Homo sapiens: one gene and its partners. The protein of the gene in region 4 purifies or fractionates together with the protein of the main gene of each other region. This does not show direct contact. Each region holds a gene or a part of one and is shown on either strand. Other genes may lie near its edges. The genes, in order: SORL1, GRHL1, ZMYM6, ZSCAN21, CLTCL1, LRP4 and PABPC5.

Region 1 (3,500 bases), on a different chromosome or scaffold from region 4:
GCTCAGACACTGTCCAGCTTCTTGCCCTCTGACCTTTGAGTGAGGTTAAGAGGACACTGGCAGCACAGGTTAGGGCTGGAAGCAGAAGCTGCCTGAAGGAAGCAGGCCTAGAGGCGATGTTAAGGCCACCACCTTCAGGGAGAAGAGAAGGGAAGGCTTTCTAGGGGAATACTTGCATCTGAGAAAGAGCCCTGTGCTGGAGTCAATGTCGGTCCTTTTTCCTCTGCTTCGCTAATGTCTTGGGTAAACTAGGCTTGGTTATTTTGACCATTTTCCTCCTCAGTTTCTCTAAGGTGGGGAGACCGGCTTCTGCCATGATTACTTAAAGGCACATTTATGATACTGAAATGTGATTGTAGGGGTGAAAATAATTTGCTGGCAGATATCAGGACTTTTCTGCCCATGTTCAAGGCTCACGCCTGTAATCCCAGCACTGTGGGAGGCCGAGGCGGGTGGATCACTTGAGGTCAGGAGTTCGAAACCAGCCTGGTCCACATGGGGAAACCCCGTCTCTACTAAAACTACAAAAATTCACTGGGCGTGGTGGCAGATGCCTGTAGTCCTGGCTACTCAAGAGGCTGAGGCAGGAGAATCGCTTGAACCCCGGAGGCGGAGGTTGCAGTGAGCCGAGATCGCGCCATTGCACTCCAGCCTGGGGGACAGAGTGAGACTCCATCTAAAAAAAAAAAAAAAAAAGGCAAAGTTTAGAAGTTGAGCCCCTTCTTAAAGGCCAGGTCCAAGAAGAGGGATTCCCTAATTCATGCCACACTGAATTTCCTCCTGATTTCTCATAAGCTCTGTCTGTCTGCGCCATCATACCTGCTTTTTCCTCTGCCTGAAATGATCTTCCCCAACTCTTGTCCTTGCCTGGGAAGCTCTTATTCCATTCTTTAACATCCAAGGAATACCTCTTGGTATTCTCAGGCTATGGTGGGAAGAGTTTCTTCTGAGCTTGGAGGCAGCACTTACTGCCTTGTGTTAGAATTGCTCAACTGTCTCATCTTCCTGTTTGCTCCTTGAGGGCATGGATCAAGTTCTCTTGTGTTTCCCTGGCACTTGGGAGGCCCTTAATGAGTATTTGTGGACCAGCCACACACCTGGAAGAAGAGAGGCCCAGAGGGTAGGAAGCACATTCACATTATATAAAATGTATTTGTAAGGAGGAATACAGTGAACCCACACATGGATAGTGAAAATGAGATGGCTCATTCGGTAGTGAGGATGCAAGCGGCATGGCCTACAGATAGTGGAGCCCTGATTTGCCTGTGCTATATGGGAGTTATTTTCAATGAAGAGCTTGGATTCTATTTTACAGAATCCTCCCTTTTAGGGCTATCATTCTGGTTTATGCTAATGGTATTGTTTTGGGGAAAAATCCTTTGGAATAAAGCACAAAGCCTAACAGGATTTACAGGTTTATTTTCCTTCCAACAAGCTCTCTCTTCATAATTCCTACATTTTAGAAGCCAGGGAGTATTCAGTGTCCTGATTTGAGACTGAAAATAAAGTGTCTATTACAGCACAAGGCCCTGGGACAAAAGGCCTCCTTTGGGGGTGGAATACCGTTCAGCTTTAGATCTCTTTTGAGTAGATTCTTCCATGATACACTTGCTTGGGAAAGAATTGGCTGGTTGATTCTGAAGTTAGGATGTTTGACCTGTGTGCTTCCAGAATAAGATGAGAAGGCAAAGAATGTGCTGCTTCAGGTTGGCTTTTATGTAGCTGAAGAGTTGCTCGGGGCCTTGGGTTGGCTCAATAAGGGACGTGACCTTGAAAAGCTCTTCCTGGTTCCACTTGGCGTCTTTTCTTAGGGAGCTCTGTGCCCAGTCTCTGGCCGCTTTTAGTTCATAAATAGCTTGCATGGTTAGAGGCACAGAAGGTGGAGGCTTTGCGAGGGGGAAGGAATGGAGGAAAGGGGTTGGTGAGAAGAGTAAGGAGGCGGAATTTGGAGGGATGAAATAAAAAGCTGTCTGATTAGGTAATGCACGTTTACAAAACAAAATTTGTACAAAAGCGTATGTGGTAACAAATTTCCTTCCCTCTCATGCCCCCTGTTCACCCAGAGCTCCTTTCCGGGTGGCATCCGTTGTTATCAATATTTTTGTATATCTTTCCAGAAACAGTCTATGCATGTACAACATGTATGTACATAAAATTGGAAACTTGAATTATAAATGGCTTCCTGTTACCTGTAGTCCCTGGTATCCTGAATAATGAGATTAACTTTAGCTCTAAATTATATTTGTGATATTATGATGGTGAATTGTTAGAAAATTACCTGAAGTATCATAATATAAAATAGATGATTACTTTTTTTCCAGGCCAGGTGAGAAAAACCTCATTCTCCTTTCACTTCAAGCGTTCTTGCAGAGCAGGAGAGCAGCCTGATGTAGCCCCCTTGTAACTTGGAGAGATGCTGGAGCACAGTTCCCTTGAGATGTGGAGTCCAGGCTTGTAAGAGCATCAGAATACAGTGATCATGGATCTTGGTTTTAATTTGTGTTCTGTCTGAGAATGTTTTCTCTATGTTCTGTAAAATGAAGTTAATGGTATGCTTAATAAATTGCTTTGAGACTTGGGATCCACGAGGCAGATCCTTATAGCAACGAACATCCCAAGGCAAAAGGTGGATGTTGTAGGAACATTTCATTGTCAGATTTTGGTCTGTTCCTCCTTAGAGATGACAGCCATCTTCATAGTGTCATTGTTGAATCCCAGGGCAGAGATAGTTGGAGCCAGCTTTGTTCCACCCACTGTAATGGAGGGACACAGGGGGCAGTCTTATCATAATCTGGAGAGCAGGTAATCCAAAAAATAATCGATTTGCTTTTGCTATGTATTTATGTAGTCTTTTTTTTAAAGCATTCGTTTACCTTCCTAATTAAGTTTTGCTCAGGTGAATATTAAAATGAGTTTGCATTCTTTGATCTATTGATAAGGGAAATGGCTGGCCTAAATGTATTCAGGGAAAGGCAGTTTGGAGTTTAGAATTTGCGACAATAATTCAGATGCAGATAATTGAGAGTTGATAAAAATGTATTAAATGTTTTAAATGAATAAAAATGTATTAAAACCTGGGGGCATTACATTGACCTTTCCTCCATTTATTTGGATTTAAATAAATGTGATGGAAAGTAAAAGAGAGCTCACTGCATTTTTGGTTTGAATATTCAGGGATTAGTATTTCTCCAGAGGTGGTCTGGGCTGTGGGGGTGAGGCATTCTCTGTTGATGAGCATGGGACTTTCCTATGCATTTTCTAGGTATGCCAGACACTGTTGGCAGATGGTATAGTCAGTCTAGCCACGTACATGCAAAAATCAATTTCCCTCAATTTAAAATGAGCCACAGTTAATTTCGACCTAATTTATTGGCTTATCGACCTGTGAACCCTGGGCCTTCGAAGAAGTGGCATGGGCGGCCTTCAAGCGCTGAAGTGGCTGATGAAGCTAAAATCCAGAAAAGGCAGGGTGGGCTGCTGAGCAAGATCAAGATTTGAGT
Region 2 (3,042 bases), on a different chromosome or scaffold from region 4:
CTTATCCATGCCAAACATCATAGACAGACAAAAAAGAACTAAAAATACTAATTTCTAGACAAAGCAGCAACGTGACATAACTTGGAAATAGGATCCTGAGCAGGAGGGTAGAGCAGGGCATGGGCTGCAGAGGCAGGGAATACCAACCATGGCCCCGAAAAGCCTCTTGAACTCTGAGCCTCAGCCGCCTGTCTATAAATATAAACAAGCCCTGAGACCAGCTCAGAAAGAAGACGTGAAGACCAAGCGCAGCACCGTGGGACGTGCCCAACCCAGTGCCCGGCTCCAACGGGCTCGACACACGGAGGTGCTGCCCTGGCCATCCTCAGTGGCGCTGGCCACACACCCTGGAGTGTGGAGCCATGGCACTGCTGCCAGGCATGTGGAGGGCAAAGAAGGTGACTTGGAGAAACAATACACAAAGATCTCCTCAAGGCAGATCAATTTTATCTAAGTAATTTCGTATATAATTTAGAAAAGCCACATTCCAGCACCCAGGTTTCTTTGGCTGCTTCTGGACTGGGCACGATGCACACGTGTCACACTGGCACAGGGTGTGTGTCACTGGCACAGGAGGGTGTCACTAGCATGCACGGTGTGTTACATGGTGCTGGGGGGTGTCAACAGCACTGGGGGGTGCGTCACACTAGCACTGCGGGGGGCATCAGCACTTTCCGAGGTACACAGGACGCAGTGGCTGCTTACCCCTTTTTACACTTCTTGAATATTTTCCCAATCTTGTCATGGGGAACATCGTATTTGTCTGAGATCTAAAAGAGGAAAGAAAAATAATTACAAAACCCTGTATCAAGGCTTTAGAAACCAAACAACAAATATATATATATGTATATATATGTGTACATATATATACGTATATATATGTGTACATATATATACGTATATATATATGTGTACATATATATACGTATATATATGTGTGTACATATATATACGTATATATGTGTGTACATATATATACGTATATATGTGTGTACATATATACGTATATATGTGTGTACATATATATGTATATATATGTGTGTACATATATATGTATATATATGTGTACATATATATGTATATGTATATGTGTACATATATATGTATATGTGTACATATATATGTATATATATATGTGTACATATATATGTACATATGTATATATATACATGTACACACATATATACATATGTATATATACGTATATATATGTATATATATACGTATATATATGTATATATACGTATATATATGTATATATATACGTATATATATGTATATATATACACACACACACACACACACACACATGCATAGTCACTCGACTTTTTGTTTTTCAAAAACGCAGACACAAAGACATGGAAAAGCCCCAGCTCGTGTGCTGGGGGCCTCCAGCTCTCCTCAGCCCGGCTGCCCCTCACTGTAATGAGCTTCTGGGGAGCTGTGGCTGTCTTCCTTTCGGGACATAGAGGCTATTTTTAATATTTTTAAAGAGAATGGGTGAATTGCTCCAAGGACAAACAGCTGATTCACTCTAGATCAAACGTTACACTTGTCATCCAGACCATCCTCAGGCTGGCATCACCAGCTTCACCTCAAGCCACAGAGCAAAGCTCAAGGTGGCACTGAGAAACAGAGCCTCAGGTGGCAAACGTGCAGATCCTGCCAACCTTCCAAACACGTGTTTCAGACCAGACCCCAGCTCCAAGTTCTCACCACACAAACCCTTTTTCTTTTCTGTACGAGTGGATGATAATACTTTGTGTTCTGACATGTAAGACCTGTCATGAGTTCCTCGTGAGCCATGAACAGTTATGCTGGCCCAGTAATTCTGCATCCTCTTTACTCTCCTCTTTCCCTGTAATCAGAATTTGCATGTTTTTTGTTTGTTTGTTTTTTGTTGTTTTTTTTTTTTTGAGACGGAGTCTTGCTATGCCAGGCTGGAGTACAGTGGCGGGATCTCAGCTCACTACAACCTCCACCTCCCTGGTTCAAGTGATTCTCCTGCCTCAGCCTCCCGAGTAGCTGGGATTACAGGCGCCTGCCACCAAGCCTGGCTAATTTTTTGTATTTTTAGTAGAGACAGGGTTTCTCCATGTTGGCCAGGCTGGTCTCGAACTCCTGACCTCAGGTGATCCTCCTGCCTCTGCCTCCCAAAGTGCTGGGATTACAGGTGTGAGCCACCGCACCTGGCCAGTTTGCATGATTCTTAAGACATGATGAAGGGTCATCAAAAGGCAAGAAAAGAGAAACCCAGGGGACATCCTAGGAGGCAGGAAGTGACAGTGGGAACGGCGCTGCCTGTGCTGTGGGCAGGCAGGGATGCACTGAGTGACACCCGTGGACTTGGGGCGCCTGGCTGAGAGACCGCACAGCAGCTCCCCAAACCCACGCCCCATCTCCCTGCTTTATTAATCTTCATGGCACTCATCAGTACCTGAAAAATGACCTCAACTTCTTTGCTTATTTTGGTGTCTGTGTCTTCCTAACTACAAAATAAACTCCATTCAGCACTGTGTCACTGACGCGCATAACTCCAGTGCCCGCCACAGTGCCTGGCATGAAGCAAGCCCTTTATCAAGATGTGTTAAATGAATTCAACACACTACAGTCATCAGAGGGAGCTGGGGGAGATGCTTTTAGCCCAATTATGGACACACTTTGAGCTTAAAGATCTCTACGGTCTCTAGGAGACAGGCTGGTAAATATCTGCACTCAGTGCTGATGACATGCGTTTTTCCAGTGCACAGCTGGAACGGGAAATTAACACAGCAGCCTTCCATGTTTCCTCTCTTACTGATATCCCCACAGGGAGCATGGGGTCAGTTTATTCCAGCCTCGTGCTGAGATCCTCGTAAGATGGACTTACGGCCATCACTGGTTACACGTCTACTTTCTCTGCAATAGGCTGTAGTGAGGTCTTGATGCAAGTTCAGTAATTTCCTAGGATTGGGAGTTTTAAAGGTAGACTGAGGAGCCACTGTTTTTATGTATGAAGTTTTTAAGATTGTACTTGATTAAAAATCACTTTTGTTAGCTTCT
Region 3 (3,500 bases), on a different chromosome or scaffold from region 4:
TTTTAAAAAACTTCCTGTTTTGAAATATGTAAGGGTATTTTAACATTAAAAAAAAGGATGGTTGCAATTTCAGAATAAAGATAGGCATTTACATTTTAAAAATGTTTCATGATTACATTTTGTTTTAAAACGTTTTAAAGAATGTGGTAAGAATAAATAGGATTTTGTCTGTGATGATTTTATGTATAATGAGCAGATTGCATTGACACTCTTGTATCTTTTCTGCCATTAACAGAAAAGGCAGCTTGTAAATCTAAAATGATTGAAATCCAAACTCTAAATCATTCAGATTTAACTTTTCTTTTTTTCTTTTTCTTTTTTTTTTTGAGGCAGAGGCTCGCTCTGTTGCCCAGGCTGGAGTGCAGTGGCACAATCTTGGCTTACTGCAGCCTCCTCCTCCCGGGTTCAAGTGATTCTCCTGCCTCAGCCTCCTGGGTAGCTGGGACTATAGGTGTGAGCCACCACGCCCAGCCAGATTTAATTTCATTTATTGCTCCTTTTTGCCGGGTGCAGTGGCTCACACCTGTAATCCCAGCACTTTGGGAGGCCAAAGTGGGCGGATCACCTGAGGTCAGGAGTTCCAGACCAGCCTGGCTAACATAGCAAAACCCCTTCTCTACTGGAAAAAAACACAAAAATTCGCCGGGTGTGGTAGCGCAAGCCTGTATTCCCAGCTACTTGGGAGGCTGAGGCAGGAGAATCGCTTGAACCTGGGTGTTGGAGGTTGCAGTAAGCCAAGATCACGCCATTGCACTCCAGCCTGGGTGACAGAATGAAACTCCAGCCTGGGTGACAGAATGAGACTCCATGTCAAAAAAAAAAAAAAATTTTTTTTTTCATTTATTACCCCCTTTTAAACACACTACCTAAAAAATAGGTAGTGCTCAGCATTTGGAATAGCTATGTATTACTCCCATATATCAAAATTTCATTTGAAAAGTAGATAAAAGTATTTTAAAAGATTCTCTAATTCTGAAAGATTGTCTTTGTAAAGATTAGTGTAATAACTTGTAAATTTTGACTTTTGAGGTGCTTGTGAAGGTATTTATGATTAGACTGTTTAAGAGATGAATAGGGCCGGGTGTGGTGGCTCACGCCTGTAATCCCAGCACTTTGGGAGGCTGAGGTGGGTAGATCACAAGGTCAGGAGTTCGAGACCAGCCTGGCCAATGTGGTGAAACCCTGTCTCTACTAAAAATACAAAAAATAGTTGGGTGTGGTAGCACATACCTGTAGTCCCAGCTACTCGGGTGGCTGAGGCAGAAGAATCGCTTGAACCTGGGAGGCAGAGGTTGCAACGAGCTGAGATCGCGCCACTGCACTTCAGCCTGGGCACCCAAGTGAGACTCCATCTCAAAAAAAAAAAAAAAAAAAAAAGGAGATGAATAGGATAGAATAATTTTTTTTTGCTTGAATTTCTAGTTTACTTACATACATTGTATTCATTGCTCTTTTCTCTTTTCTTTTTTTTTTTAAAGGAGTATGGATGTGTCCAACAGCCAAAAACTCAAGAAAGTAAATTGAAAATTGGTGGTGTGTCTTCAGTTAATGAGAGACCTATTGGTAAGAAATGGAACTGTATAAGTTAGTTACAATTAATTTGCTTATTCTGACTTTTAAAATTGAGGGAAAGCATCTTTTCATGTATGTCTTTCTCTTTCTTTAGAGCTGTGTTTTTTCAAACTGTGAGTAGCTGGTTTTCAGCAGCGTTTTAAAAAATAGAGTAAGATTATATCAGAATATGATATGTGTAGTAAGGAAACATATTGTTTCATAAAACTTCTGTTTCAGTGATTAAATTGTACATACATCCCCACGTTTACAAACATATGTATGTGAGAACTGGGTTATAATATTAAATGTATTTCTTGCGTTGAGTAATGGTTAAAAAAAAATTGAAACCTCTGTTTTAGAGCTCTTATTGCCTCATTAACTGGATTTCAAGATTGGGAATTTGTCCTGAAAAAGAGAGACTGGGCTGGGTTTAGTGGCTAACACCTGTAATCTCAGCAACTTGGGAGGCTGAGGCAGGAGGATCGCTTGAGCTCAGGTGTTTGAGACCAGTCTGGGCAACATACCTTATCTTTGCTAAAAATTAAAAAAAAATTAGCTGGGTGTGGTGGCATGTGCCTGTAGTCCTAGCTACTCAAGAGGCTGAGGCGGGAGGACTGGTTAATCCTGGGAGTTTGAGGCTTCAGTGAGCCTTGATTGCACCACTGCACTCCAGCCTGGGTGACAGTGAGACCGTGTCTCAGAAAAAGAAAAAAGAGAGAGAGAGAGAGAGACTGAGACTGTATATGCATTAGTATTGATACTAAAACTTTTTTTATTTTGTTTTGATAGCCCAGCAGTTGAACCCAGGCTTTCAGCTTTCTTTTGCATCATCTGGCCCAAGTGTGTTGCTTCCTTCAGTTCCAGCTGTTGCTATTAAGGTTTTTTGTTCTGGTTGTAAAAAAATGCTTTATAAGGGCCAAACTGCATATCATAAGACAGGATCTACTCAGCTCTTCTGCTCCACACGATGCATCACCAGACATTCTTCACCTGCCTGCCTGCCACCTCCTCCCAAGAAAACCTGCACAAACTGCTCGAAGTATAAAATTCTTAACATCCCTTTTTACTTTACCTTTTTTTTAGTGTGTATATTGTTTAGTTCAAACATACTGTTGATACTTTAAATCTCTTCAGCATGTATCTGTAGAAATAACTTTTTAGTTAATGGAAGAATTCACCAATTTTAAAGTTTTGCAACATTAAATAAGTGACTTGGTGTTAGAATATTGCCTAAACCAGTTTTCTATCACTTTAAATTTTACTATGGAAAGAAATAACAAATGACATGTGGGAATTGCAGGACTATCCTGTAATTGTAGACACCCACCATTTAAATTTATTTAACAGTTATCTTGAAAGCTATTGGGTATAGCATAAAATAATATCACTCTTTTAATAGTATACAAAAGCTATTTAATTCTTTAAAAAGTAAAAACTCTACATGGTCGCAAAAATGTGTTTATTTCTAATGTCCTTGTGGGGTCATTGTTGCTTTACAATAATGCTTAGATGCAGAGAGAGGAAAAAACAGCAACAAAGTCACATAAATCTTTCCCTGACTTAGTACATTTGAAGGATTTGGCATATTTTGCCTATTTCTGTGGTAGTGTAATTTGAGGAATACAGTGTGTTGTTAATAGTCACTACAGGCAAAAAACAGTAAGAGCTTGCTTTTAAATTGTGGCTCTGTCATTTATCTCTGTGACTTCGGGCTAGATGTTTAACTTTCTAAGCCTCCATTTCTCATCAGTAAATAATAGTTGCTTCCTAGGACTTTAATGAGACAGTGTTAGCAAATGGCCTAGCACATAGCAAGTACTTAAAAAATGGAATCCTGTTATTATTAATAATAAAAATTATATCGTGCGATTATTTATAATTAACATAAATAAATATAATAAATATATGTGTATATAATACATATTACTATGTATACTTAACATATC
Region 4 (3,500 bases):
GTCTTAGGTTTAAACAGATGGCATCTAGCCAGTAGATAGCTTGATAAAATCTCAGAAACTATAATATCTATAGTGGTGAGATTCTGAACTAGTTTTGGAGCAAAGTTAACTTTAAAATTATGCCACATTGCACTTTTTAGGAAAGTGGAGACCACTGAAATCAAAGTAGGATATCCTGAGCTGATTGCAGAAAGATTTTTTTTTTTTTAGAGATGGAATCTCGCTCTGTTGCGCAGGCTGGAATGCAGTGGCGCAGGCTTGGCTCATTGTATCCTCTGCCTCCTGGGTTCAAGCAATTCTCCTGCCTCAGCCTCCCAGGTAGCTGGGATTACAGGCATCCATCACCACGCCTGGCTAATTTTGTATTTTTAGTAGAGACAGGGTTTCACCATGTTGGCCAGGCTGGTCTCAAACTCCTGACCTCATGTGATCCACCCGTCTCAGCCTCCCAAAGTGCTGGAATTATAGGCATGAGCCACTGTACCCAGCTCATTCCAGAAAGATTTTGAGCAGTTGTTTTTGTATGGTAGTTTTATGGTGGACATAATTTCCACAATTTCTTGTGTTAAAGGTATGGCTGTAAAGACCCAAAAACACTTTTCAGTTTGATTATTTTTTGGTAACTATATTTTCTTAGGTTTAACTTGTGGCCCTAAAGAACTGGAAACCCAAAGGAACGAATATTCCTGCCCCACAGAGTCCCATCTTTGGTGAGGCTGTTTCTGGAGTTTACATGATGACCAAGGTACTAGGCATGGCCCCAGTTCTGGGCCCTAGGCCTCCACAGGAGCAGGTGGGGCCTCTGATGGTAAAAGTCGAGGAGAAAGAAGAGAAAGGCAAGTACCTTCCTAGCCTGGAGATGTTCCGCCAGCGCTTCAGGCAGTTTGGGTACCATGATACCCCTGGACCCCGAGAGGCCCTGAGCCAACTCCGGGTGCTCTGCTGTGAGTGGCTGAGGCCCGAGATCCACACCAAGGAGCAGATCCTGGAGCTACTGGTGCTGGAGCAGTTCCTGACCATCCTGCCCCAGGAGCTCCAGGCCTGGGTGCAGGAGCATTGCCCGGAGAGCGCTGAAGAGGCTGTCACTCTCCTCGAAGATCTGGAGCGGGAACTGGATGAGCCAGGACACCAGGTAGGCAGGAGAGACCTTTGTTATTCTAGGAGATTGGGAGCGTAACATTCTAGGCAGGAACAAGGGTTTGTCCATACATTAAGATTTGCTGAATGGAAATTTCTGCTGAATTAGACCTTGTTTCCTCCTATTTTTCTCTATCATCCTAAACTAACTTTTAGCCTTGGGAATGGAATGGGATGGGTGTTTTCCTTTTCTCTTTCCTAGAGGTTCTATGTAGCTCTACTGGGATTTTCATTCTTGGTCTTAAAGTGAGCCATGCACAAACCTAGCCATTCCTGATTGTCTCTAGGTCTCAACTCCTCCAAACGAACAGAAACCGGTGTGGGAGAAGATATCCTCCTCAGGAACTGCAAAGGAATCCCCGAGCAGCATGCAGCCACAGCCCTTGGAGACCAGTCACAAATACGAGTCTTGGGGGCCCCTGTACATCCAAGAGTCTGGTGAGGAGCAGGAGTTCGCTCAAGATCCAAGAAAGGTCCGAGGTGAGGACCACCCATTAGACTCCTATTCAGTGCCCCAGGCCCCTGTGGTTGGAGAAGCAGAATAATTAGTAATTCTTGGTTGTGAGGTGATTTCATAGATTGACTTGATTAGTTGGGCTGACTGGGTGGAAATAGTCCCCTTTCCTCCCCCAAGTAAGGCTGTCTTAACCTGGGCCCTAGCATGGGAATGGATCACTCTTAAAGGATCAGTTTCTCTTTGAAGTCTGAGTATTACAAATAATTTTTTTTAAAGGGTCAATTGAAATGAGTTTAAAAAAGAAACTGTTAACAGAGGTGTAGAGACTTCAAATGAACCAATAAGGAATAGTGTTGCACCAGACAACAGTGAAAAGCTGTTACTCCCTGTGAGCCTAAAGGGACAGAGGGGGACCCTCTTACCAGAATCAGGTAAGAGCTATAGTCATGGAGGAGGGGGTCACTTGATAGAAGTTGTGGCTGTAGGCCCTGCTGTGGGATGAGGAGAAAACGGAATAAATACCCCAACTGCACCCTCCTCCTGCCCTTAAATCTCCTGCTTTTGTTCCCCAATGACAAACTCAGTTGGCAGCCAGAGGGCAGGAAAGACAAGACAGTGCAGCCCTTAGGGTCAGCTTCCTGGGGCACAGGGCGGGTCAGAGAATGGATCTGAGAAGGGCAAATGGGAAATAATTGGCAACCTCCTTTCTGAAGCTATGGAAAGAGGTGGGGCATTTTTCACAAGTCAAAGCTGTATTAGGTGACTACTCCTGAGCTCAAATCTCCATATATTATGGTTTATAGAATAATCTCAGGCCATAAATGGTCATCCCCTGTGGGGGTGTTTTTGTGTGTTTTTCTGAGACAGGGATTCCATCCGTCATCCAGGCTGGAGGGCAGTGGCGTGATCATAGCTCACTGCAGCCTCAATCTCTGGGGCTCAAATGATCCTCCCACCTCAGCCTCCCAAGTAGCTGGGACCACCATGTCTGGCTAACTTTATTTTTTTGTACAGACAGGGTCTCACTATGTTGCCCAAGCTGGCCCTATGTTATTTTGTTATTTTATGGGTTCTACTCTTAAGTACCTTCATTTACCAGAAGGATTAGAACTAAATCTTTGAAACAGAGTTAATGTTTAATTATATGTTTGCAAAAATATGGCATATTATTCCAAATCCTAATAGTTTCAAACCAGGACTTTGCTTACGTGTTGGTGGTGTAGACCACTATTTATGTGTGTGGTGTGATTTCATGACAAGAGTCCATGGCCCTCAGAAATCTCCCTCCATGCTTGCTGTGTCTGAAACGTGAAACTCCATCATGGAAACAGAGTTTCGAGCCGGTTAAAAATCACATTTTCTAGGAAAAGTAAAAAATTAAACTGTTAGCTAAATTCTTCATGGTTTATGGTGAACACAGTAGACCTCTCCAGGCAATTGGGGTTTCCCCAGAGTTGCCACAGTAATTAGAGATAAAAATAGCCGGAGACCTATCTGGTCAGTTTTATTTTCCATATCTCTTGGTGTAGCCCCTTGGCAGTATTACACAAAGAGGAGGGTGGAGTGGAAGGATTATCAGAGCCAGGAACAGGCTTGGGTTTTAGTACCCAGATGGGACAGAAGACAAAGCTGCTGGGCCCTCCTAAGGAAAGGGAAGTTGGCTGTGAAAGCTTTGCATAAAGTCTTTTTTTTTTTTTTTTTTTTGAGACGGAGTCTCCCTCTGTTGCTAGGCTGGAGTGCATTTATGCAATCTCGGCTCAGTGCAACCTCTGCCTCCCAGGTTCAAGAGATTCTCCTGCCTCAGCCTCCCGAGTAGCTGGAACTACAGGTGCACACCACCACGCCCAGCTCTTTTTAAAAAAACAGAGTTTCGGTCTTGTTGCCCAGGCTGGAGTGCAGTGGCGCT
Region 5 (3,500 bases), on a different chromosome or scaffold from region 4:
ACTATCTGCAAATGTCTGTGAGGCTATAACTGGAGAGGAGGCTCTTCCACAGGGCTGTGGGAAGCCCTCCCAGAGGCCGAGGCAGACTCCCACCTGCCAGGCCATACCCAATAATGACCCCTGGCCCCAGCACTCTGCCCAGTCTCCAAGGAGGTGCTGGATAGTCACAGGGGCATAAAGAGCACCTCAACAAAGGGAAGTCAGCTGAGACAACCTTGAAAGCTACTTCACCTCTGTCCACGAGGGCTGAGCTGGGCCCAGCATGCAGGCATGACACCAGGTACTCTCTTCCTGGGCTGCATATCCCTGCTTTGGATCCAAGGGCCAACTCTATGCCCTTGGCCAGTTAACAGTTCCAAGTCAGCTTACCCTGGGGAATCAAGCTATTTTTAGGCAAGCTATTTCTGCAGGGGAGAAGGTTCGTAAGGACTAAGATGTTTTATTTATTTATTTATTTATTTATTTATTTATTTATTTAATTTTTTTGAGACAGAGTCTCACCCAGTTGCCCAGGCTGGAGTGCAGTGGCGTGCAGTCTCGGCTTTCTGCAACCTCCACCTCCTGGGTTCAAGCGATTCTCCTGCTTCAGCCTCCTGAGTAGCTGGGATTACAAGCATGCGCCACACAGTGTGTTTTCGTATTTTTAGTAGAGATGGGGTTTCACTATGTTGGCCAGGCTGGACTTGAACTCCTGACCTCAAGTCATCCACCCGCCTCGGCCTCCCAAAGTGCTAGGATTACAGGCGTGAGCCACCATGCCTGGCCTATTTATTTATTTTTTTGAGATGGAGTCTCTGTCTGTCGCCCAGGCTGGAGTGCAGTGGCACGATGTCGGCTCACTGCAACCTCCACCCCCTGGGTTCAAGCAATTCTCCTGCCTCAGCCTCCCAAGTAGCTGGGATTACAGGCGTGTGCCACCATGTGCGGCTAATTTTTGTATTTTTAGTGGAGATGGGGTTTCACCACGTTGGCCAGGCTGGTCTTGAATTCCTGAGACCTCAAGTGATCCACCCACCTCCGCCTCCCAAATTGCTGGCATTACAGGCGTGAGCCACTGCCCTCAGCCAAGATGTTTTAAATTAAAAATGAAACCAGTCACTTGAGCCACAATGATGATCGGACGGCAAAATGCAGGTGTGCAGACATACCCATCTCTGTGCCTCACCTGGTCAATTAGCTGTCTCCTGGATGGGTTGGTCTCCTCAAGGACGTGAGCCCAGAGCTCCGGATCCTTTCTGCATACCAGGTAGCGGGCCTCGCTTTTGAACAGAGAATTCTCATTGCACACCTGAAATGAGCACACTCATGTGTGTGACACAGCAGCCAACCAGCGGAAGCTGCTTGGGAGGACACACCCCAATTCGTTCCCTGTGTGCCTGATACTGGTTTGGTGGACAGTCAGGGCCCAGGCAAGACGCTATGCTTTGACATGGGATGAGCAGCATCCTACAGGGTTAACGATGGACTCAAACTACCTCAAAATGCCCTTTCCAAGTTTACAACAACTCCCAGGGATGTGCCACATATCTGGCCAGTAGGACTTCCTGCATTCAGGGACATGCTCTGTCTCCCATTCTGTCTGATACAGCCACTAGCCATGGGAGGCTACTGAGCCCTTGAAATGTGGTGCGTGACAGGAACTAAACTGGTAATTTTTAATTTAGTTAAATTTAAGTACTCATATGTAGCTAGCTTTAAACCATCTGTAAAATGTTATCAGAACAGCCTAGAACTGGTATAAAACAGCACAAACACTGCAATGTTTCAAGATCTAAAAACTGTAAACTGTGCTTTCACTGGTAGATCTGGAGACCTTTTTCTGAATGTTATAACAGATCTCCAAAACACCAACAGTCCACTGGAATGTTCTAGCGTGTGCAGCACTTGCTAAATCCTGGTGAGGATCAGATCTGTTGAGTGCCAGATGCCCGGCACAAGGCTGAGCGGCGTGCACACGTGCTTGCGGATGCAGCGCAGTCCGCCTGTGTATCACAGGAAAAGCCCAAGCAGGCTGGTGTGGCACCAACCTCACAGGTGCCCTATTCATGTCTGGATTTTTAGATCAAATGATTAGGTAGGAACAGTTCATACAATTCAACCTAAACATGTAATTATATGTGGATCCAAGCCTGGGCAGATGCAGGCAAAAGACCTGGGCAGATGTCTCAAGGAGAGGCCAGCAAGAGCTCATTGGTCAGGTGATGGGGAAGGGCTTGTGTAGAGGGTTACCCCAAAAAGGGGGCATGAAGTACAAGGGTACTCGGGACATGAGGCACCCAGGGAATTGCAGGCCTCTCCAGGTGGGGTGGCAAGATGGATGGCTGATCAAGTTCGGGAGTTGGGAAAGGTGGCAGTCCACAGAGGAGCTCACGAGTCAGGCCAAGGAGTTCAATTCTGCCCTCAAATTGCCAGGCAATAGTAAGGACTGTAAGCAGAGGGATGATAAGTCAGGTTCAGGACCAACTGGTCTACAGGTACAATGCATACAAATTGCATGAGCAAGTTCCCAAAAGCTGTGAGAATCACAAGGAAATAATCTCATGACCTGCCATCTCCAGGTGCACAGAAAGCCCTGATCAGCTCCCCACAGGCACACCTTTGAAAGCTTCCCTGGGAGCCCAGGGTTACATGGGCAGCTCAGCACATCTGCTACCCACCTTGATGAGCTCAAGGTCACACTGCCCCCGCTCATAGGCAACACAGGCCAGATGGGGGTCTCGCTTCTCACAGTAGCGGCCCACCACGCTGCTGTCATAGTAGGCATTCTCTCTCAGGAAGCACTCGGGGCTGTTGTTGCTGTCGATGTAGATTTTAGCCAGTGCATTGTGAGTGGCAGGCTCCTCACAGCCTTCCTGAATCTGGGACTCCAGCCAGGGAAGCAGCAGCTTGAGCCTTTGAAAGAAGGAAGGTGCTGTAAAGTCTCAAGGCTACCACTGGAAGTCTTGAGGGCAACTCCAGGGCTCTGACAGATGTTTCCTGAAACAAAAAATCTCAGAGTCCATTGACTTCAGGTTGCTCTAGGGACCAAGATGGACCTGGTTTCCAAACTGATTTCTACTGTTAGGTTTTCCCCCAAGGTCTTCACAGTACCAATAGCAAGTAACTCATTGCTACATCTAAGATGTGTACATGAACGACCAGCTATAGAGACAGTCCTGGAGAATTAGACAGAAACAACAACAGACACTAGAATCCAGGGGTAAGAGAAAACACCAAGTAAGGACACCTTACCTATTTCTTTTTTCTACTTCAGCCACCAACTCATCAGTAGAGAACTGTCCTCTCACTGCCATGATTAAGTGTTTAATCACTTCCTCAGAACAATCCACATCAAGCAGCCCTCCAATCACAGCTGGGGTCCGGCTAGGGTTGACCTAGGGTAGTCAAGGTCAAGTAACTTCAGTGTTGCAAACACAAGTTATTGTTAGAAGCCTCCTACGACGTGGACAGTTTGGGCAAAACCCTGAAAGGGCTCCTGTTTAGCACTGCGCTGTGTCCCA
Region 6 (3,500 bases), on a different chromosome or scaffold from region 4:
ACCATGTTGGCCAGGTTGGTCTCGAACTCCTGACGTCAAGTGATCCACCCACCCCAGCCTCCCAAAGTGCTGGGATTACAGGCGTTAGCCATCGCACCTGGCCAATGTAAGACGGGAATCTAATGTTACCTACCTCATAAGGATATTGTGAGGAATAAATATGATATCATATACTAAATGCTTATCACAGTACCAGGGACACAGCAAAGCTCTCAAAAATGCTAACTGCTCCAGAAATACATTTGGATTTTTTAAACCACATATCCCAATTTGTAAATCCACATATCCCACAATTTGCAAAAATTGTCATTGGAGGAGATCATTCCTAGAAGAGCAGAAATTCTCATTTGGGGAAGATACATTGTAGAGTTGTTGGCTTTTATTGGCTCTGGGAGCCTGTAGTTGAAACTTATTGTTTAAACTGCCCGTGGAAGGAGGGTGGAAAACCTGGGGCTCCCCTTTCCTATTTGCTAGGCTTGTGGATGCCATAACCTGGCCTCTCCACTTGGTTAGAAGGAGGCTACAGTCAACTCAACAGAGAAGCTGTCTCTTGTCCTCATCCATGCCAGCGCGTGGTTGCAGGCCACTACCCCTCCCCACCTCCCCCAAGGCGTGACAGGAAGTGGAGCTGCCGAGCTTGGAGAGATCCCTGGAGGCACTTACAACCTTGCAGCTTCTTTATTTCACATGCTAATCAGGTGTCTCTCTGGATACCCTTCTCTGTACCTGCTCTGCCCTACACCCAGACAGAGGGAGGGTCCCTCTCCCGCAAAAAGGCACTGCCTGGAGCCAGGAGCTTCCCGGCTCCAGAAAACCTCCGGTGATAAATTATGCAGCAGCACCTCTGTGTCACTGCCTCTCAGCTAGATGGGAGGTTTGCTCCCAGTCTTTTGTTTCCGGCTCTGCTTGCCGCTCTGATCCTCAGCTGTGCATAGAGGTGAGGGGGAGCTCCCATAGGCCAAGTCAGGGCTTGCAGCAAGTCCCAGCCAGGCTATCCCCAGTTGGGTCCCAGACAGCGCCCCTCCCCTCATTCGAACCTGAATGATGGGGGAGTCCTATTCCGCATGGGGAAACAGGGTGTCAGGGAGCGCTAACAGCCAGTCCGCTCATCTGTGAGCAAGAATGGGAATGCCTACGAGCAGTGAAAGAATGAAGTCTGCTTGGATGGGCGTAAGAGGCGCCCAAGGGCACCTAGGATGTTTGCTTCTTGCTAAATCAAAAACGCACAACAGAAAATGGAGGCAGACAACCGTCAGGAAGCTAGAGAATTGGCTCTTTTTAACAGCTGCTCTTGGTTACGGTCAACTTTCCGCAGCTCCCAAAAATCACATCACTGGCACCAACTTAAAAAGAAGAAACAAAAGAGACAACAGGGGTCAAACTTTGAGGTGGAGGAACTAGGGGTTGGGGGCTATTCGGGGCTGGAGACCCACATCAATTAGGCCTGCAAGCTGACAGGCTTCCTGATTGAAAATGGTAGCTGCGAAGGCTCCACAACAGCCCAGCTCCCAAATTGGGGCAATTACTACCTTATGAGCTCTGGAGCCTGACTCCTTTCTCAGGCCAATGGGAGGGAGGGCTTGGAATTCTAAACTGTTCCAGCTACAAGAGTCCCTGGCCAGCCCCTCTCACCCCATGTCACAGGAATCTTAGCAGGAGAAGTTGCTAGGCTGCATCCCTGACCACTTAAGAAGGGAAACTCTCAGAGGAAAAGCTCCATTTCCCCAGACCTCTCTCAAGAGAACTAAGGCGACATGAGTTCCCCTAGACTGATGTTATAGCTTAGCAGACTTCTTTTCTAGGAGTGGGCACAAGTGGGAACTATGCTTCGGTTCTATCACGTTTTCAAGGGGAGAAAGAAGGGGCAGATCTTTAAAAGAGACAAGCAAAAGACCAGCTGCAATGAATGAAGGACCAAGTCTCAATTTTAGCACAGAACACGGTAGCATAATTATTTACCTGGCTCCCATGTTCTAAAGCCAAGAATCATCTCGGATCCACTTAGGTGACTTTGCTTACAGCTAACTTTTATCAAGCTCTACAGTAACACAGTAGTTGCCAAGCTCTGTGCTGCATAGTTTGAACATGCTATTATCTCAGGTAAATTTTATGATATTCCTATGTGATAATCTATTACTACTTCCCTTCCCCTACCCTACCCGCCTTTGCAGGTAACAACCCTGAGGTTCAGGGAGATTTTGCACAGGGTCACCAAGAATTGCCAGAGCCAAGATTCAAACCCAGGTCTGTGGGTGCTTCTTAATTGCTGAGCTTCGTATACAGTGATTATATTAATGCTTGACATATGTGTGTTTGCTGAATGAATGAACAAGTGAATGGGTGTGGAGCCTAGTTTGAGGAATGCTCCCGATTGTACGAGGAACTCATTCCTGCCAGCTCTAAGCTGGAGTGAGAGTGACAAGCCCATGCAGTCATCAGAACTATTTATAAGGTCAAACTCAGGCTCTGCCAGCTAACCAGTCAGCACTGAGTCTTCCCTGGGACACTGAATCCTCACAGGCTGAGGAGGGGAGGAGGGCTTCCGCTGCTGAAGATGAGATGGCAGTCCAGACACAGTCTGGGGCCCAGATGCCCCATGTCCAGGCAACTGTGACAAAACTCGTGGCTAAGCTGCATCAAGGAATGTAGAGAGACCATGGCTGGAACAGGCTAACAGACCTAGTCAACCAAGGGCACAGACTGTCTCGTAATCTTACCCAATCATAAAAAAGACAAGATTACTTCTTAAAGTAGTCCCTGAAATTCTGTTCCTATTCAGGAACCCCCAGTATTTTTTTTTTCTTTAAAGGGGCAGCAACATAAACAATTTCTCCTATTTTCCTTCTAACAGTTAAGACTGGCAGTTAATCGGTAGAAAGAGTGAGCAAAGAGCTATAAAACACCGTGTCCTCTGTGACCTCCTGTGTTCTTTGCTGGCCCAGAAGATGGACATACCCAACGTGCTCTGTATCAGACATGGCCAGACTTGGTTCCCTTGCACCTGTCATTCTTAATACCACGTGCCAGTCCAAAAGATGTTATCTGATATTCATCAGGGTACAGAAGAGGAAATCCAAAATCAGTGACAAGCCAAGTATGTTTCACAAGCCCAACAGATCAGGGACAAGGTCACTCAAGCACCATGACAACCCTGGTCACGACAACAGCGAGATGGAAAGGAGACCAGTCTCAGCTCAATTGCTCTGCACTTATTTTCAGATACAACCTTCTATCTACCCAAGCACGCCTAGGCAGAAGTTTTAACATTTCCCTTACCTGGATGAGACCTCTAGAACAAACACACTTTCCACTCTTCCAATGGTTGTCATCCATGCCCTTACTTCAAACTTCAGGATGAAAATCACTCAGGGCTATTACCAGCCATCAAGTTTCCTTCCAAAATCTTTAAGGTTGGAGAGTTATGTGGGCTGAGTCCAAACCAATAGGCTCTAGGAAAAGCCCCAAGGACTAGCAGCATCCAAATAAGCACCTTAAACTTT
Region 7 (3,954 bases), on a different chromosome or scaffold from region 4:
TTTCTGGAGGGGTAGGAATTGTGGAAGGAGCCTCTTGAAGTGTTGTTTGCGCATGCTAGATATCAGTGAATTTCTGAAAACACGGTCAAAATTTCTCTCCAAAAGGGTTTCTCAAATACTCTGAAGAGAGATATTGTTGAGAAACTGCTGAGTTGAGTCCAGTCTGATGGCACTGTTTCCTTCAAGGGTTTCAAGTTGACAACTCATGATGAAATTCATAATTGTGTAAAGTGCATATATCTTAACATGTTTATTTCATCTGTAAATATTAATTACATATTTTGTATTGATTCTGTGGCTTTTATCTCTTTAACTGAGATTTTGTAACTGTAATTCTCGCGGCAGCTCAACAGTTTCAACGTTTTGTGGCACTAAACACCATCAAAAGCCATTATATGGCTCTCCAATCATTAAAACCTTAGTATTATGGGATCAGAGAAAAGATCTCTTTGCCTACCACCTGAGGAAAATATTACCATTATGTTGGAGATTAATGAAGTAAGGCTAAAGGCCAAAGGCAACATGGTCCTGTGTTCTACTTGACCCTGTGATCCTTTAGCACTGGATTGGGAGGCCAGGACATTTGTAAACTTTGACTTTCCAATGCACTCAGGAAAGTATGCAACCTATCCTTTTCCCTAAGCTTAAATGATTTTGATAATTAGTTTTTTAAAACTTATTATTTTTGCCCAGGTCGTCATCTTCTTATGTGATTTTTAGATGTTCGGCTTAAATATAGTGTTTTAAATAATAAATAACATTTAAAATATAAGAAACATCTAAAAGCCATCTTAGATTTTTCTTTCTCTCCTTCTCTCTCTCTCTCTCATTCTCTCCCCTTCTCTCTCTCTCTCTCTCTCTCTCTCTCTCTCCCCCCTTCTCTCTCTCTCTTTTTTTTTAAATCTTGGTACAGAGGAAGCGGGAAGTTACTTAGCACGGTTCCGGGTTTCTCGCGCCCCGCCTGTCCCCCCTCCCTATCACTGCTACTGGCTCTTGGTCCCTCCGTTGGACTGTCCTGCGGAGAGAAACCCCAGCCCATCGGTCTGCGCTGGGACCGCCCGCCGCGCATCTGCCCTTCTTCGCTGACTCCGCCCCGCATCTGGCCAGACCCGCCTCGCGTCAGAGCTGACCCACTCACTGCGCGTTTGCCAGTCAGTCTCTCCGGACCTGCCTCGAGCCTCAGGCTGCTGAAATCACCGCGCCTCACTCGGTCCGTACCCAGTGGGCATCTTGGGTATCTGGGCGGTCTTCGATCCCCCGCGCGTGTGTCTGTCTGTCTGTCTCTGTGTCCTATCCGCTGCCTGCAGCCTGCCTGCCGGTCTTATCGCACCAAGTGTCTGGTGTACCCTTTCGCAGACGCTGAGTGCGGAGAGGCCTTAGCGAAAGGCTAGCCAGCCCGAGACTGGCCAGGCAGCCGGCGGAGGAATACGCGCTCGGTCCCTGCCCTTGTTGATATCATTTTAAACCAACAGGAGCTCTAGGCCTATATTTATGCAGAAAGCGGGTCGGGAGGCCTCTGTCTGCAATGCTAGTTGTGGGGAACCAGCCAGCTGCTTGGTGGCTTCTCACAATTTCACGGGGACAGGAAAATTACGTTTCTGGTACTGGCTTTTGAAACTGATTTTAAATCTGAACGGGTGACAATTTTAAGTCCCCGCAGGGAGAATAGATTCGTATTTGGGGCGCCTTTTTGTCTGATGTGTTTGTTCTGAGCCTGCTGACCAGCTGTTTCTGAACTTCATTTTCTCAGCCTCGACAGTGATTCTGAGTCTGCTTTTAGCTTCCTTTTGCCTGCCTTGGCTTTTTCTGTTCGTGAACAGCTGTTTGGCCCATAGCTTAGAGAAAGCAGCCTTTTTTCTCTTCAAAGAGAACCTCCTCCCAGTGCTCAGAGAGATGGGGAGCGGGGAGCCTAATCCTGCTGGCAAGAAAAAGAAGTATCTCAAGGCCGCTCTGTACGTGGGTGACTTGGACCCAGATGTCACCGAGGACATGCTCTATAAGAAGTTCAGGCCTGCTGGCCCTCTGCGATTCACCCGAATCTGCCGTGATCCGGTGACCCGCAGCCCCCTGGGCTATGGGTATGTTAACTTCCGCTTTCCCGCGGATGCAGAGTGGGCCTTGAACACCATGAATTTTGATTTGATTAATGGAAAACCATTCCGCCTTATGTGGTCTCAGCCAGATGACCGCTTAAGAAAGTCTGGAGTGGGAAATATATTCATCAAAAACCTGGACAAATCCATAGACAATAGGGCCCTGTTTTACTTATTTTCTGCTTTTGGGAACATTCTGTCCTGCAAAGTCGTATGCGATGACAACGGCTCTAAGGGTTATGCCTATGTTCACTTTGACAGCCTGGCCGCTGCCAATAGAGCCATCTGGCACATGAATGGAGTGCGGCTCAACAACCGCCAGGTGTATGTTGGCAGATTCAAATTCCCAGAAGAGCGGGCGGCTGAGGTCAGAACCAGGGATAGAGCAACTTTCACCAATGTTTTCGTTAAAAACATTGGAGACGACATAGATGACGAAAAACTGAAGGAACTTTTCTGTGAATATGGGCCAACTGAGAGTGTTAAAGTAATAAGAGATGCCAGTGGGAAATCTAAAGGCTTTGGATTTGTGAGATATGAGACACACGAGGCTGCCCAAAAGGCTGTGCTAGACTTGCATGGAAAGTCCATCGATGGAAAAGTCCTCTATGTAGGGCGAGCACAGAAGAAAATTGAACGCCTGGCTGAGTTGAGGCGGAGATTTGAACGGCTGAGGTTAAAAGAAAAAAGTCGGCCCCCAGGGGTGCCTATCTATATTAAGAACTTGGATGAGACAATCAATGATGAAAAACTGAAGGAGGAATTTTCTTCCTTTGGGTCAATTAGTCGGGCCAAAGTGATGATGGAAGTGGGGCAAGGCAAAGGATTTGGTGTGGTCTGCTTTTCCTCTTTTGAAGAGGCTACCAAAGCAGTGGATGAGATGAATGGCCGCATAGTGGGCTCCAAGCCCCTGCATGTCACCCTGGGCCAGGCCAGGCGCAGGTGCTGAGAATAAGAATGCTCAGTTTGTTTCAGCCTTAGTTGGTGCCTCCTTAGTTTGGGCTCCTTTGTGATAAGGGGTTATTTTATGCTAATTCACAAGTTTTTTTTTGAAGTGAATTCTTTTGAAAAAAAAATGCAAAACTAGAAAACTTTATTCATTTTAGAATAGAACATAATTTCTAACTGTAAAATTGTCATTTTGTACTTTTTTTGATGTAATATCCTTAGAAATCTGTAGAATAAAGTGTATTCCTCCACTTTTTTTTCCTGAACAGTCAAGGTGAGGCAATTGATTGAGTATATTTCCCTTCTTATTTCAGTAATACTCTATTTTTTTTCATGAAAATGTCAACATGGTTCTTCTGAATCTATCACAGTGAAAAGTTCTAACTTGTTTTTGAGAAGTCAGTACAGCAGGGGAAAACATATGTGATGCAATTAACATCTGCATAATTTCACTTAAAATTATTATGCAAAAATGAATGTTTTTTCAAAAAATGTGAAATGTATTTTATTTTCTTTATTTGTATTCTTGTTTCATTTTTTAATATGTTGTGAACATGCTACAGATTTGATAGTACTTTTGACTAAATGTTGGGAGTGGTCGTATTAACTTCTTGCCCAAAGAAGTAAGCATATTGGTGTTTTCTCAATTAGTCACTGAGAAAATTAACACTTTAGGCAGTGGCTATTTAAAGTAGGAATTGCATCTTAAAAACCTTTCCTAAGAGATTTGGTATGTGAGGATACTTTCAGTACCACTCCTACCATTCATTTTTCTAAATTCCTTAGTACATATACTTGGATCATGTTAAATTAACAAGAAAGATGAATAACTGCGCTGAATTGCCTTTACCTATAAATAATTTAATATTTTACCTTCGGGTTTTATCAACTGTCAATATAAAAGGCAGTACTC

What was found.
Region 1: the proteins of ZSCAN21 (region 4) and SORL1 purify together in Homo sapiens (affinity purification with mass spectrometry; one large-scale study listed by BioGRID and IntAct). This does not show direct contact.
Region 2: the proteins of ZSCAN21 (region 4) and GRHL1 purify together in Homo sapiens (co-immunoprecipitation; one large-scale study listed by IntAct). This does not show direct contact.
Region 3: the proteins of ZSCAN21 (region 4) and ZMYM6 purify together in Homo sapiens (affinity purification with mass spectrometry; one large-scale study listed by BioGRID and IntAct). This does not show direct contact.
Region 5: the proteins of ZSCAN21 (region 4) and CLTCL1 purify together in Homo sapiens (affinity purification with mass spectrometry; one large-scale study listed by BioGRID and IntAct). This does not show direct contact.
Region 6: the proteins of ZSCAN21 (region 4) and LRP4 purify together in Homo sapiens (co-immunoprecipitation; 2 studies listed by BioGRID and IntAct, with this or other methods). This does not show direct contact.
Region 7: the proteins of ZSCAN21 (region 4) and PABPC5 purify together in Homo sapiens (affinity purification with mass spectrometry; one large-scale study listed by BioGRID and IntAct). This does not show direct contact.

The regions. Positions count from the first base shown.
Region 1 is NC_000011.10:121,455,314-121,458,813, forward strand, and holds part of SORL1 (sortilin-related receptor preproprotein), read left to right. Parts: intron 1-3,500. UniProt on the Homo sapiens protein: Sorting receptor that directs several proteins to their correct location within the cell. Along with AP-1 complex, involved Golgi apparatus - endosome sorting.
Region 2 is NC_000002.12:9,996,693-9,999,734, reverse strand, and holds part of GRHL1 (grainyhead-like protein 1 homolog), read right to left. Parts: intron 771-3,042; coding exon 706-770; intron 1-705. UniProt on the Homo sapiens protein: Transcription factor involved in epithelial development. Binds directly to the consensus DNA sequence 5'-AACCGGTT-3'.
Region 3 is NC_000001.11:35,018,446-35,021,945, reverse strand, and holds part of ZMYM6 (zinc finger MYM-type protein 6), read left to right. Parts: intron 1-1,478; coding exon 1,479-1,563; intron 1,564-2,343; coding exon 2,344-2,593; intron 2,594-3,500. UniProt on the Homo sapiens protein: Plays a role in the regulation of cell morphology and cytoskeletal organization.
Region 4 is NC_000007.14:100,056,274-100,059,773, forward strand, and holds part of ZSCAN21 (zinc finger and SCAN domain-containing protein 21), read left to right. Parts: intron 1-637; 5' UTR 638-733; coding exon 734-1,132; intron 1,133-1,424; coding exon 1,425-1,617; intron 1,618-3,500. UniProt on the Homo sapiens protein: Strong transcriptional activator. Plays an important role in spermatogenesis; essential for the progression of meiotic prophase I in spermatocytes.
Region 5 is NC_000022.11:19,218,720-19,222,219, forward strand, and holds part of CLTCL1 (clathrin heavy chain 2), read right to left. Parts: intron 3,375-3,500; coding exon 3,232-3,374; intron 2,893-3,231; coding exon 2,658-2,892; intron 1,289-2,657; coding exon 1,166-1,288; intron 1-1,165. UniProt on the Homo sapiens protein: Clathrin is the major protein of the polyhedral coat of coated pits and vesicles. Two different adapter protein complexes link the clathrin lattice either to the plasma membrane or to the trans-Golgi network.
Region 6 is NC_000011.10:46,912,051-46,915,550, forward strand, and holds part of LRP4 (low-density lipoprotein receptor-related protein 4 precursor), read right to left. Parts: intron 1-3,500. UniProt on the Homo sapiens protein: Mediates SOST-dependent inhibition of bone formation. Functions as a specific facilitator of SOST-mediated inhibition of Wnt signaling.
Region 7 is NC_000023.11:91,433,685-91,437,638, forward strand, and holds the start of PABPC5 (polyadenylate-binding protein 5), read left to right. Parts: upstream 1-1,154; 5' UTR 1,155-1,210; intron 1,211-1,218; exon of another isoform or gene 1,219-1,315; intron 1,316-1,750; 5' UTR 1,751-1,893; coding exon 1,894-3,042; 3' UTR 3,043-3,954. UniProt on the Homo sapiens protein: Binds the poly(A) tail of mRNA. May be involved in cytoplasmic regulatory processes of mRNA metabolism. Can probably bind to cytoplasmic RNA sequences other than poly(A) in vivo.